Linked DNA regions of Homo sapiens: region 1 is linked to region 2. Evidence: fine-mapped expression QTL. A gene starts in region 2. The other region holds a variant in brackets. All regions are shown on one strand. Distances are from middle to middle.

Region 1 (5,377 bases), 69 kb after region 2:
CCCACATCTTCTGAGTCCTCATTTTTGATCCTCCTCCCTTATCATGGGGTCGGCATTAGGGTTAGCTCAGCTAGGACACTCTTCTAGAACCTGAAGGGAATGTCAGAGAAGTAGGTGAGGCTGTAGCACCTTATGTGTGGATGCTGAATTACAACAGGAAATGTAACCATGAAGTGATGCAACTGATTAATGAACACATAAGAACTTCCAGAGTATGGTGCCCTTCGGAGTGCTGGCTTTGCAAAACTTAACACTCATTCCAGTGAGCCTGCCATCACCTAGAACATTTTCCAAAATGCCTGGCAAAGCTTCCACAAGTATGTTTTGTAAGCATGTTTTGTTGAGATATATCTTCATCTTTTCTGGAAATGATTCAAGCTTTGGAATAAGGAAATTGGTTGTCCTGTGTGCTTGTGCAGAAGGACGTTTCAGAAGCTGAATCCCCAAAAACTATGGAGCAGCTGCAGCTTCACCAGAATATTGACTAAGTAACTGCATTGAAAGAAGACCCTCATTTGTATATCTAAGTAATGCATGTTTAATTACAAATATTAGCCACAGTGTAATGTCATTTTAATAGGAGCCGGTATTTGCTGATACATTCTTGGTGCTGGGCAGTAGTCTCAACACTATTCAGGTTCTACCTTACTTAAATTTTACAGCTAACCCCATGGAGTAGATAGTGCCGTCATCCCTGTTTTAGAGATGAGGAAATAAGCGCAGCAAGGTTGAGTCACTTGACCCATACCTACAGACAATAAGTAGCTGAGGTAGGATTTGAACTCAGGGAGTCTGACACTGGAACCTGTGCCCTTAACTGCTCTGCCACTTCTTAATACTCATGCTTCATATTTAATCATAAGTCAACATAAAATACACTTTTATGAAATTATTAAATCTAGAGATATGCTGAAATAAAAGTTACTTCTTATATCAAGACCCTTTTAGTATTATTTTATATGTAGACAGCATTTCTTGTGCTCACTTGGAAATTCATAGGCCATGATAAGAGGAGTGAAGGTGGCTTTGTTTGGGAGCTTGTATATAGCTGGTAATGACTTGAAAGGAATCAGTCTAGCAAATGACTGAGAAGGATGAAGACTTCAAATCAGAAAACACAACCCACCTATTTGCTCTTTTACAGGGCTTCTATAAGAGGACCCCAGACTACGTTCAGATTCGAGAATGGAAGAGGACAGGCTGCTTCCCCGTCCCCATGGTCCACTCCACCTTCCTAATTGACCTCAGGAAGGAGGCCTCGGACAAGCTGACTTTCTACCCCCCACACCAGGACTACACCTGGACCTTTGATGACATCATTGTCTTTGCCTTCTCCAGCAGGCAAGCAGGTACTGTTTGTCTTTGGTTGTAGTGCCACAATGGAGACACAGCAAAATGACCAGCTCCTTTGTTTTGTGCATTTTATTAAAAAAAAAAACCCTCATATGTCTGGTAGTGAGAGGCAGTAAATTGTCTGCAATAACCATACCAGCACCCTCTATGTTGCTGTCCCTGGGAGCACCAATGACCAAGAGCCAGGGCTGGCCTCTACCCAGGAACCCACTCTATTTTGAGTTGGAGGGACTGGTGGTGATATTGGGAATTATGGGAAGGTGATTGCTTCTCTGTGGTGCTACTGCATTGCAATTGTTTATTATAGAAGTTCATTTATTAATTAGGAAACTGTCACAGAGGCCTAAAACAACACTGGCAAAGACCCCAGACTTTAAAAATGGAAGTTTATTTCTTCTTGAAAAAGTCTGAGCTGCTGTAGTGGCTTTGTTCCACAAAGTGTTCAGAGTCCCAGGCTTCTTGTGTATTGCTTCTCACACTCCACGAGGTACTGCCCTTAATTGTGGAGTCCCAGGTGTCTCACCACCATGGATGCGTTTCAGCCAGCAAGGCAGAAACAACAGGGAGAACTCTCCCTGTCCCTTGAAGTGTGCAATCCAGAAGTTGAATGCAGTACTTCCATGCAAATCCTGTTAGCTAGAGCTTAGTCACAGGACAATACCTCACTGTAAGGGAGGCTCAGAATGTCGTCTTTATTCTCTGCATGCATGCACTGCAATTTTCACACTCTAGAAGAAGGAAAGAACAGATAAAGAGGCACCGAACAGTCTCAGCCTCAGTCCCTGTGGAAGGAGAGGCAAAGCGAGACTGAGGTCTTTTATGAACCACTGGGAAAGCATTTCTAGTGGGGCCTGGAGATTTTTGAGAAAGACAAGTCAACAGGAAGGAAAGTTATTTCTCTCATTTCACCCTACACTTGCTTCAGGAGGACAAAATTCACAAGAGCAGTTCAACAGCAAGACACATGGCATCTAACAGAGCAAAGCTTTGTTAGGATAATTCAGACTTTCCTGACAGAAGTTGGGTCCCATTATTAATGTGCCAGAAATGTGTCACTTAACCACTAGCAAAAATACGTTCATAAACCAAGAAGATGGTGAATAAACTCACTGTGGCCATATAACTGAGGGTGGAAAAGATGGTGCAAAGATCCTCCGGCAGCTGAGGAAGTGGCTGGCAGATGAGAATGTTAATACAAATTCAAGCTACAATTCACACATCAGACTCTCCTTAAAGCCATAGATGTCCCACTCATCAGTTGTAGATTTGCTGAGAATAAGAATATTTGGTAGAAATGGGTCAGGCTGATTTCCCCCTTGGCTGCTGGAGCAA[T/C]TTAGACCCTTTGGCCAGGTGTAGGCATTTTGTAGCCCTTATGTCTAGGCAAAAGCAATCCTCATATGATTGGAAGATTTTTGTAAAGATTCCTATGTCAGTGTTAATGGAAACTCCTTCTTTCAGTTGGTCTGTGATTTGCTCTGACTTCCCCAGGATGGGAAGCAAAGTCAGGGCTTTTTGAGTCCTTTGAGTGCCAATCCCTTTCCTTCAGAGGTTGAAGTTAGGATGTTCCAAGAAAGTGAGATATTAACAATTACACGAATGACACTGCCTAACAGAGTCCTCCTTTATAGTCACTGCACAAAGCATTATTATGATGCAATGAACTAAATTATTATGATACATTGTATGAAACCAATACCTGGATATTGGTATGGGAAAAATGATTCAGGTTAAGCAGGAATTTTTCAGCTCTGCCCTGTGCTTGGCCTGTTCACCAGGATTTTGTGTGTTATTGGTCAGACTTTGAAAAGGCTTTTTTAGAACATTGAAAGCAGGTAGACACCCAAAGTTGTTTGGTGACTCATTTGGGAAGAGGAGATAGAAAAGGAAAGAGAGAGGATGAACTCCCAAGTGTTTCCTTCTGTTCCTGGCACGGTGTTAGTTGGGAGTTAAGATTTTTACATGTGAAAACACAACTAATAGTCATGAAGCAGTGAAAGCTAAGGGCCAGACTGGCGGTGCAGACCATGAACAGGGCAGGAGTCAAGGCAGGAAAGATTCACTGTCATTTTGGGGAAATGAAAGGTCTTTCTTGACAACTGTGGATTTTAAGGTAATATTGTACTTATCTCTAAGTATTTTCAAGAGAAACATGAATGAGCCTGGGAGTCATGTGCAGCCCAGGGCATGTCTCCAGGCTCTTCCTTCCTTAGTTTCAAAGCAAAGCACTTTCCTCTTTCTTCATGAAATATGATTGGTATTCTTTTGTTCTCACTCTTCTGAAGCTCCCTAGCTGTGTATCATCTATGTCCCAGGCAGGACCATCCAACCACAAACCTTGGTCCTAAATCTTTCACCCCAGACTCTAGCCATTGCCCCATGTGGGTGATGAGTGAGGAGCAATCCAAGTGTGCTGGTGAGCAGGGCTTGGCCACCCTTCTAGCCCAAGAAGAGAGCACATATGGTCATAGGCGCGTCTCTGTTCCTGTAATGAGTCCAGGGTCAAGAGTTCACCTCCCATTGTGGCCAGTGATCTGGGTTCTGTATCATGGCCACAGGAATCATCCCAGTGCCAGCCAGTCGTCTTCCAAATGTCTGATGTGAGTCAAAAGAGGTGAGTGATATGGGCAATGGGCAGACAGATCCTGAACACCACTGGTAGTGATCAAATTTGTCCCCTTGTGGAGGGATGGCAATCCCCTAGTGACTAATGGTCTTGGAACTGAGCTTCCAATTACTGACTGGGTAGAAAGCACTTGGCATTGGCTCTTTAGGGACAAAGATTTGGCACTAATGACTTACTATGTGACCTTGGACAAGTGACAGCCTGAATCTGATTTTTCATCACCAAAGATAGGGATAATTACATCAATCTGCAATGTTAAGGTACTATATGAGTACAAGAAAATGTTTAATATGTTTAAAAGAAAAACAGTCCTTCAAAATGTAGCGTAATTCACTTCTCTTTTTCAAAAGAAAAATTGTCTTCCCCAGAAGCAGCATTCACTGGGAGTGCAGACTCTTTCATAGACTTTATCTAATTATTAATACATTTTCTTTTAAATTTTCTGTTATCAAACTGCCCATGCACATGGTTGAAAGTATTCATATAGTTCCCCATGGTTTATTAAGAAATGAACAGTCCCCTGCACATCACCCTGCATCACTTCTGTCCTCCAGAAGGCAACCACTTTTATCTCTAATATTTACTTCCATGTTAAATAATATGCATGCATTGCTACTTCTTGATTTTCTGGCTTCACCGTGGGCATTATTTGTTGACTCTCCACTATAGACTGTGAGGAGTTAGCTCTTTTTCTTCCTTTTTGCCCTCTGCATGCAAACACATTCTTCTCATCACCCTGTTCTCCCATTGTAATTTCAAACAGATTGATGGTCAGTGTTCTTGTTGTAATCATGCAAGCCTAACTCCAAGCTTGGTCATTCATAGGCTATGATTAGTTTTCCTTTGCCATTCTTTGGAGGCAATTCCTTTAATAATTGCCTTTTTTGCTTAGTTTTATTATTACTAGTATGATCCAAAACTAATCACTAATTACCTCAAACTCCTCTCAGAATGTCCAGATTTGTCAGATGTCCTTTTTTGCATATTTGCGAAGACGTCTGTTCTGGAGCTTTCTAATATATTCTAATCCAAGTGGTGCTGAAGCTATCAACCTAAGACTTATTTCTCTTCTCTTATACACTGACTCTCCTGTTCATGTTGTTTATAATCTTTCTTGTTGGTTATAATCGTCCTCCTCTTCTTCCTCCTCCTCCTCTTCCTTCCTTTCCTCCTCGTCCTTCTCTCACATCATCCAGCAGCTTTCTGAGAAAGTATGATGGCAAGTAAATATATTATGGTCTTGCATGTCTAAAAATGCCTTCCTTGTACCCTCACACTTGATGGATAATTTGGATAGGTATCATATCATTTTTTTATGGAAGCCTCAGAAAGTTAAATGGTAAAATGGTTTGCCTAATTAGGGTAGAGATGCAACTTTAATATATTTTTCCTTCCACTTCC
Region 2 (5,377 bases):
ATTGTCTGGACCTTTCTAACAGTCCCATCACTACCTCCCTTGTGGAAATGACCACATCTTCCTCTATCCCTTCACTGTAGCTGGTACATCTGTTACAGTACTTCTAACAGATGTTTAACTCTCAGTCTTCCCTACAAGACTGTGAGCCCCTTGAAAGTGGGAACAATTCCTGAAAATGGATGGAGGGGAAGGAAATGTCTGTAGGCCATTCGATAAAAAAATATGAAGATTAGAGAAGAGATTAGAGCAGAAGACATAGATTTTGAGGATATAACCACAGGAGACCATATGGAGTGGGAAGACTAGCACACTATAGGGAGGCACACAGTGAAGGGGCTTGGCTCAGAGACAAGTAGTATCAGAGGAGATCTAGGATGGGAGATTATGTAATCGAAGTCCAGGAAGGTGAGAACGGAAGAGTTTACTGAATCTGCCAATGCTGAGGCCATCTGTTGGTTTTGCAGAACAGTGGGGAGGGCTGACGCCTTACTGCACTGTGGTGGGAAAGATGGGAGATGAAGAAGTGGAGAATACAAGTATAGATCTCTCTTCCAAGGAGCTTGGTCAAGCAAAGGGATGACTAGAAGAAGACACAGGACTTTTTTTTAAAGCTTTTCTTTCTTTTTTTTTTAACGGATAAGAGAAGACTGACCAAGTATTTAGCTTGAGAGAAAGGAGTTGATAGAGATCAGTTGAAGATTCAGTAGAGAGTGGAATGATAGAGAAAAATCATGGGCTAGAAAGGGAGACCTCTCCCTTTCTAGTCTGTGATCAAAGACCCTGTCGTGAGGAGGCACCTGCAAGTAAGAAAGGTCTTGGTAGGGATGCTAGTTGGAGACAGTGGTGTTGGGGGAGCTGGATGAAGGAGGTGATATACTTCAAAAGACAGTAGGGAAGACTTCTAATAGTTGCTGAGAAGGATTGATAACAACTAATAAAAAGACTATGGGACAGACCTGAGGGTGAGTTGGGATTGGAGATCATGAATGTGCACTGGCACCAAAACACCCTCCATACTTATCTATCAAAGGCTACACAATATATCTTCAAAACTAAATATCCAGCCGAGCATGGTGGCTGATGCCTGTAATCGTAACACTTTGGGAGGCCGAGTTGGGCAGATCACTTGAGCCCAGGAGTTCCAGACCAGCCTGGGCAAAATGGTGAAAACCCGTCTCTACAAAAAAAAAAAAAAAAAAAAAAATTAGCTAGGCGTGGTGATGGACACCTGTGGTCCCAGCTACTCGGGAGGCTGAGGTGGGAGGATTGCTTGAGCCCAGGAGGTCGAGGCTGCAGTGAATTGTGATCGTGCCTCTGCACTCCAGCCCCGGCAACAGAGTGAGGCCCTGTCTCAAAAAAAAAAAAAAAAAAAAAGTAAATCTCCTTTAGCAGTGTATGCCAGCAGTTTCATTTTATGTGCTAATTGTGTTCTTCCTTCACCCCTTCTTTTCTTCCTTATCTCTTCTCTGCTCTCCAACATGCGCGAATTTTCCCTCTTTGTTACTCTATCATATTGGCTTATTACGGAAAAAGAAAACCAGCTAAGTGAATTTATTCTTTCACAGCCCTCCTGTGAGGAGGCTTACTGGGTTCACAGTAGAGTGAGGCTTCAGGACAGTGTCTCCCAAGGGCTTTCTTTTATTTTGCGGGGTCTGATCTGGCTCCAAAATTCTCCAAGTCTTCAAACTTTGTGTTATTAGGTGTCTACTCAGTCAAGAATGAATTTCAGAAGTTGAGTATATAAGAAAATGCGACATGCTGCCTTTGCGGTGGTTAAACAAGTGTTTGTCATAATCGTGAATAGTTGGGGAGACTTTTCATTTTAGAACTCTACTCAGTCAATAGGTGCATTATGAAAACTGGATACATTGCATCACTGTGAAGGGCTTCAGTCTGCGGTTTGCAAAAGCAGAATAAATTTTCTTGGGGTTGTACCGTTATGTACACACACACACACACACACACACACACACACACACACTCACAGGCTCATTGGCAGACAGGGCCACAACTCGCGGCTCTAGGGAAGGCCACAGACCTCAGCTGTACGAGCGGAACCTGGACTAGAGGAACTTTCCTCAGGACTCAGGGCACACAGCCCCTCGGCCACTACTGTCTGCGAGCCCGAGGCGCAGGGGAGCGCCAGCGGCTGCAGGTACGCTGCGCACCCGCACTGGGGCCTGGGCGGTGCAGCGGCGGCGGGAGGGTCCTGGGAACCGCAGCCGCCGAGGCCAGTGTGTGAGCCGGCCGGCCGCGGCAAGCCGCATCCCCCGGCCGCCCCTCGCAGCCCCTTGCTCCCCGGCAGCCGCCGCCGCCCTCAGGCAGCCCAGCCGGGCGCTCGCGCCAGGACTTCCCCGCCGCCCGCCTCGGCCCGGAACATGGCTGCGCGCCCTGCTGCCACCCTCGCCTGGTCGCTACTGCTCCTCTCCTCAGCCCTGCTCCGCGAAGGCTGCCGAGCGCGCTTCGTCGCCGAGCGGGACTCGGAGGACGACGGAGAGGAGCCGGTGGTTTTCCCGGAGTCGCCCCTGCAGAGCCCCACGGTGCTCGTGGCGGTCCTCGCCCGCAACGCGGCGCACACGCTGCCGCACTTCCTCGGCTGCCTGGAGCGGCTGGACTACCCCAAGAGCAGGATGGCCATCTGGTGAGCGCGCACGGGCCCCGGGCCGCCGCGGCGGGACGCGGGGGCGGCCTGCCCAGCGCGGACAGCGCCCGGAGCAGCAGCTGCAGGGCGAGGGAGCCGCTGGAGGGGCGGGGGGGCACGCGGAAAATCTGGCGCACACACCCCCTCGCTGCCCGCGCCGGTGGCTGGCGGATCGGGCGGTCAGGCTGCGGAGGGACGCGCGGGTCAGTGTGCGCAGAGGGTGCTGATGGGGAGAACCGGACCGCTGGAGCTCTGGAGGGTAGCCTGCGAATTGGGGCTTTGTCCCACAAGGGGCATGGGGGACACCCCTCAAGGGGACTTTCAGTTCCCTCGCTTTTAACTCTCGAGGTTTCCTCTTTCCCCACCTCATACTGCTAGCCCTGACGTGAGGGGATAGGGTGCCTGTCGCCGTATTCCCATGTAGATACGACAGATGGAACGTAACTGCGGTTGGCCAGGGGCTCCGCAGTGGCTGGGGCGCCGCAGTGCGCTGCTCTGACTTTCCGGTGCCGGGCTCCTGCTCCAGGCTGGAAATGTGCTCCTAGCTCTCCTAGGGGGACCTGGACCTAGGGGTGGAGATTGGGCGGAGCCCGCGGAGTGTGCCCAACCATGGCACCACCGTGGGCCTGGTCTCCTGCGAGCGCTCCGGGCTGTCCCTGCCGGTGCATCGGGGTTCCACGTCCCGGGGAGAGACGAAGATGCCCTGGGAAAGATAAACAGCCAAGTTTTGTCCCCGGAGGAAAGAAGCTTGGACCTGGTCCCTGTGTCTGCTGCGGGGAGGGCCAGGGGATAAGTGCGGGTGCCTGCCCGCCCCACCTTGTAGAACTTGGTCGTCTCGCACCTTTTATAAACGCGAGGATCCGAGGGCGAGAAGTTAGTTGGTGGCCAGGTTAGCCGCTGAGTGGGTTGTGGAGGACAAGGAGGTGGATGCTGGCCAGGGGAGATGTGCTGTCAGGTAGGTACTCGGACAAGAAGACTCTGGCCCCCTGAGGAAGACAGAGCCCAGGTCACTCTGGAGCAATTTCTGTCTTGTGTTGATAAAGGGAGCTGTTCTCAGGCGAGACACATCCTTAAAGCAGCGGTTGGGCAAAGAGAGGAAGAGGAGTAAAAGCAGCAGCTAGAATTGGCAGCCTCAGAGTACCTGGTGGGAGAGGTGCAAAGGTGCGAAAGCAAACATGTGATATAGTACAGCTCTGTGCTGTACACTGCTTTACTATATACCCTGCCATACGTGACCGCCTGGCGGAGAAGGGCATATTATGTGGAAAGAGAGCACTGGGACAGCCAGGCTTTAAACCAGAAGGAAGGATTTTTTTTTAACCACTTCGGTACCAAAAGAAATTCACACATATCAGTTACCTTAGTTGTTGTGTTTTTTTTAAGAGATATTTTAAAATATGGTTTTGATCTTTATGCATGATTTAGTTTTTTAAAACGTTACAGTATTTACCATAAGAAGTTGGTGAGTGGTGAAGCAGGTGTCAGGCACATGCTTTGCTACCTGATTTAGAGACATTACCTCTTTTTATCATACAGTAAACTTTTAAGAGGATGCTATGATGTTTATTTTGCAAAGAAAGAGACAGACTTGCATCAGTTCAGTAAGTCACTTAAAGTGACAGAATTAATAAATGGTGAAACTGGAATTTGAACCCAAGGCCACCCTAAAAAGGCAGGAAACATGATATAAACAAAATTTACATAAGCCTATAATCTACAAATTAGGAGACTTGAGTTGTTTATTACTAGTTTGATATGTGATTTGGGGCTGGTTGCTTGGGATCCATAGGCATCAGTTGCCTCATCAATAAAACGAGGGAGTTGGAATAAATGATTTCAAAAATTCTTTATGGCTCTTGAATTCCATAGATTTTGCAATATAATTAGGATCAACCAGCATCAATGTACATCCTAAGTTCCCTGTAAGTTCCAGATGGTATGGACACTGGTGTCTTACTTAGATGAGAGAATTCCAGTTCTGCATAGACCTTTGAAATCTGTTGTCTTTTATGTCCAGCATTGGCAGGTTAAGCAAGAAGTGCAAGGCCATGCTTGCGTCAGTCATTGAAGACTCTTCTTTGAAAAATTTTGGTTCTGTCTTTAAAACATTGTGTAATTCTTTAGGTAACAATAATACAAATCCCAGTTTCTAAATAGTTCTTTTCAGCTCACAAAGGAGCTGTAAAGAACCTTTGGAAATAACTTCCATGCACTGTTAACTCATTTGATTCTTACTGCCATTCTGTGAAGAAATAAAATTATCTCTATTTCCCAGAAGAAGAAATGTGTTTAAAGTGATTGACTTACTCAAAATTACATTTATTTATAAATTCCACACATAATAATAAGAGCTCGTGGTTCTTCTAAGAACTTCACATTCATTTTCTGGTTTAAGCTTCAAAATGACCCTATCAGATATGCACTGTTATTATACCACTTTACAGGTGAGAGAACTGAGGTACAGAGAGGCTGTACAAGCATATTCTTCTAATGCATTTTTTAAAATAAGAACCAGCCAGATCAGGGCTGAAAAAAAGTGTATTTAGATATGTGTGTTTTTTTACAGATAAATATGATTCATTTTACTGGGCAGTGTAAGGTGATCTGAATGGCTTTTAAAGGGTTTGGGGAAGAACCAAATGATTTATAAATCAGATTGGGGCAGTTGTATGGATATGGATGTCTTCTTGATGAGTGGACACTTAGTTTGAACTCAGTTTTGAAGGAAGAGTAAAA

Alleles and levels. Positions count from the first base shown, and alleles are read on the strand shown. Sizes are in standard deviations (SD) of each study's normalised expression.
As copies of T replace C in region 1, the expression in tibial nerve of the gene that starts at base 2,008 in region 2 goes down (small effect, 0.22 SD a copy in GTEx).

What was found. PIP is the estimated chance that this variant, and not a neighbour inherited with it, causes the effect.
Region 1: its variant is fine-mapped to the expression of COLGALT2 in tibial nerve (GTEx, PIP above 0.99).

Annotation. Positions count from the first base shown.
Region 1 is chr1:183,965,241-183,970,617 of GRCh38, reverse strand. COLGALT2 (collagen beta(1-O)galactosyltransferase 2) reads left to right here. Exons shown (of 12, transcript NM_015101.4): 5 at 1,145-1,349. Among named protein-coding and RNA genes, the nearest start is that of COLGALT2, 70 kb to the left of the region's middle. The variant T/C (reference allele first, on the strand shown) is at 2,686.
Region 2 is chr1:184,034,359-184,039,735 of GRCh38, reverse strand. COLGALT2 (collagen beta(1-O)galactosyltransferase 2) reads left to right here and starts at 2,008. Exons shown (of 12, transcript NM_015101.4): 1 at 2,008-2,641. The coding sequence starts at 2,379. RefSeq lists a silencer at 2,196-2,285.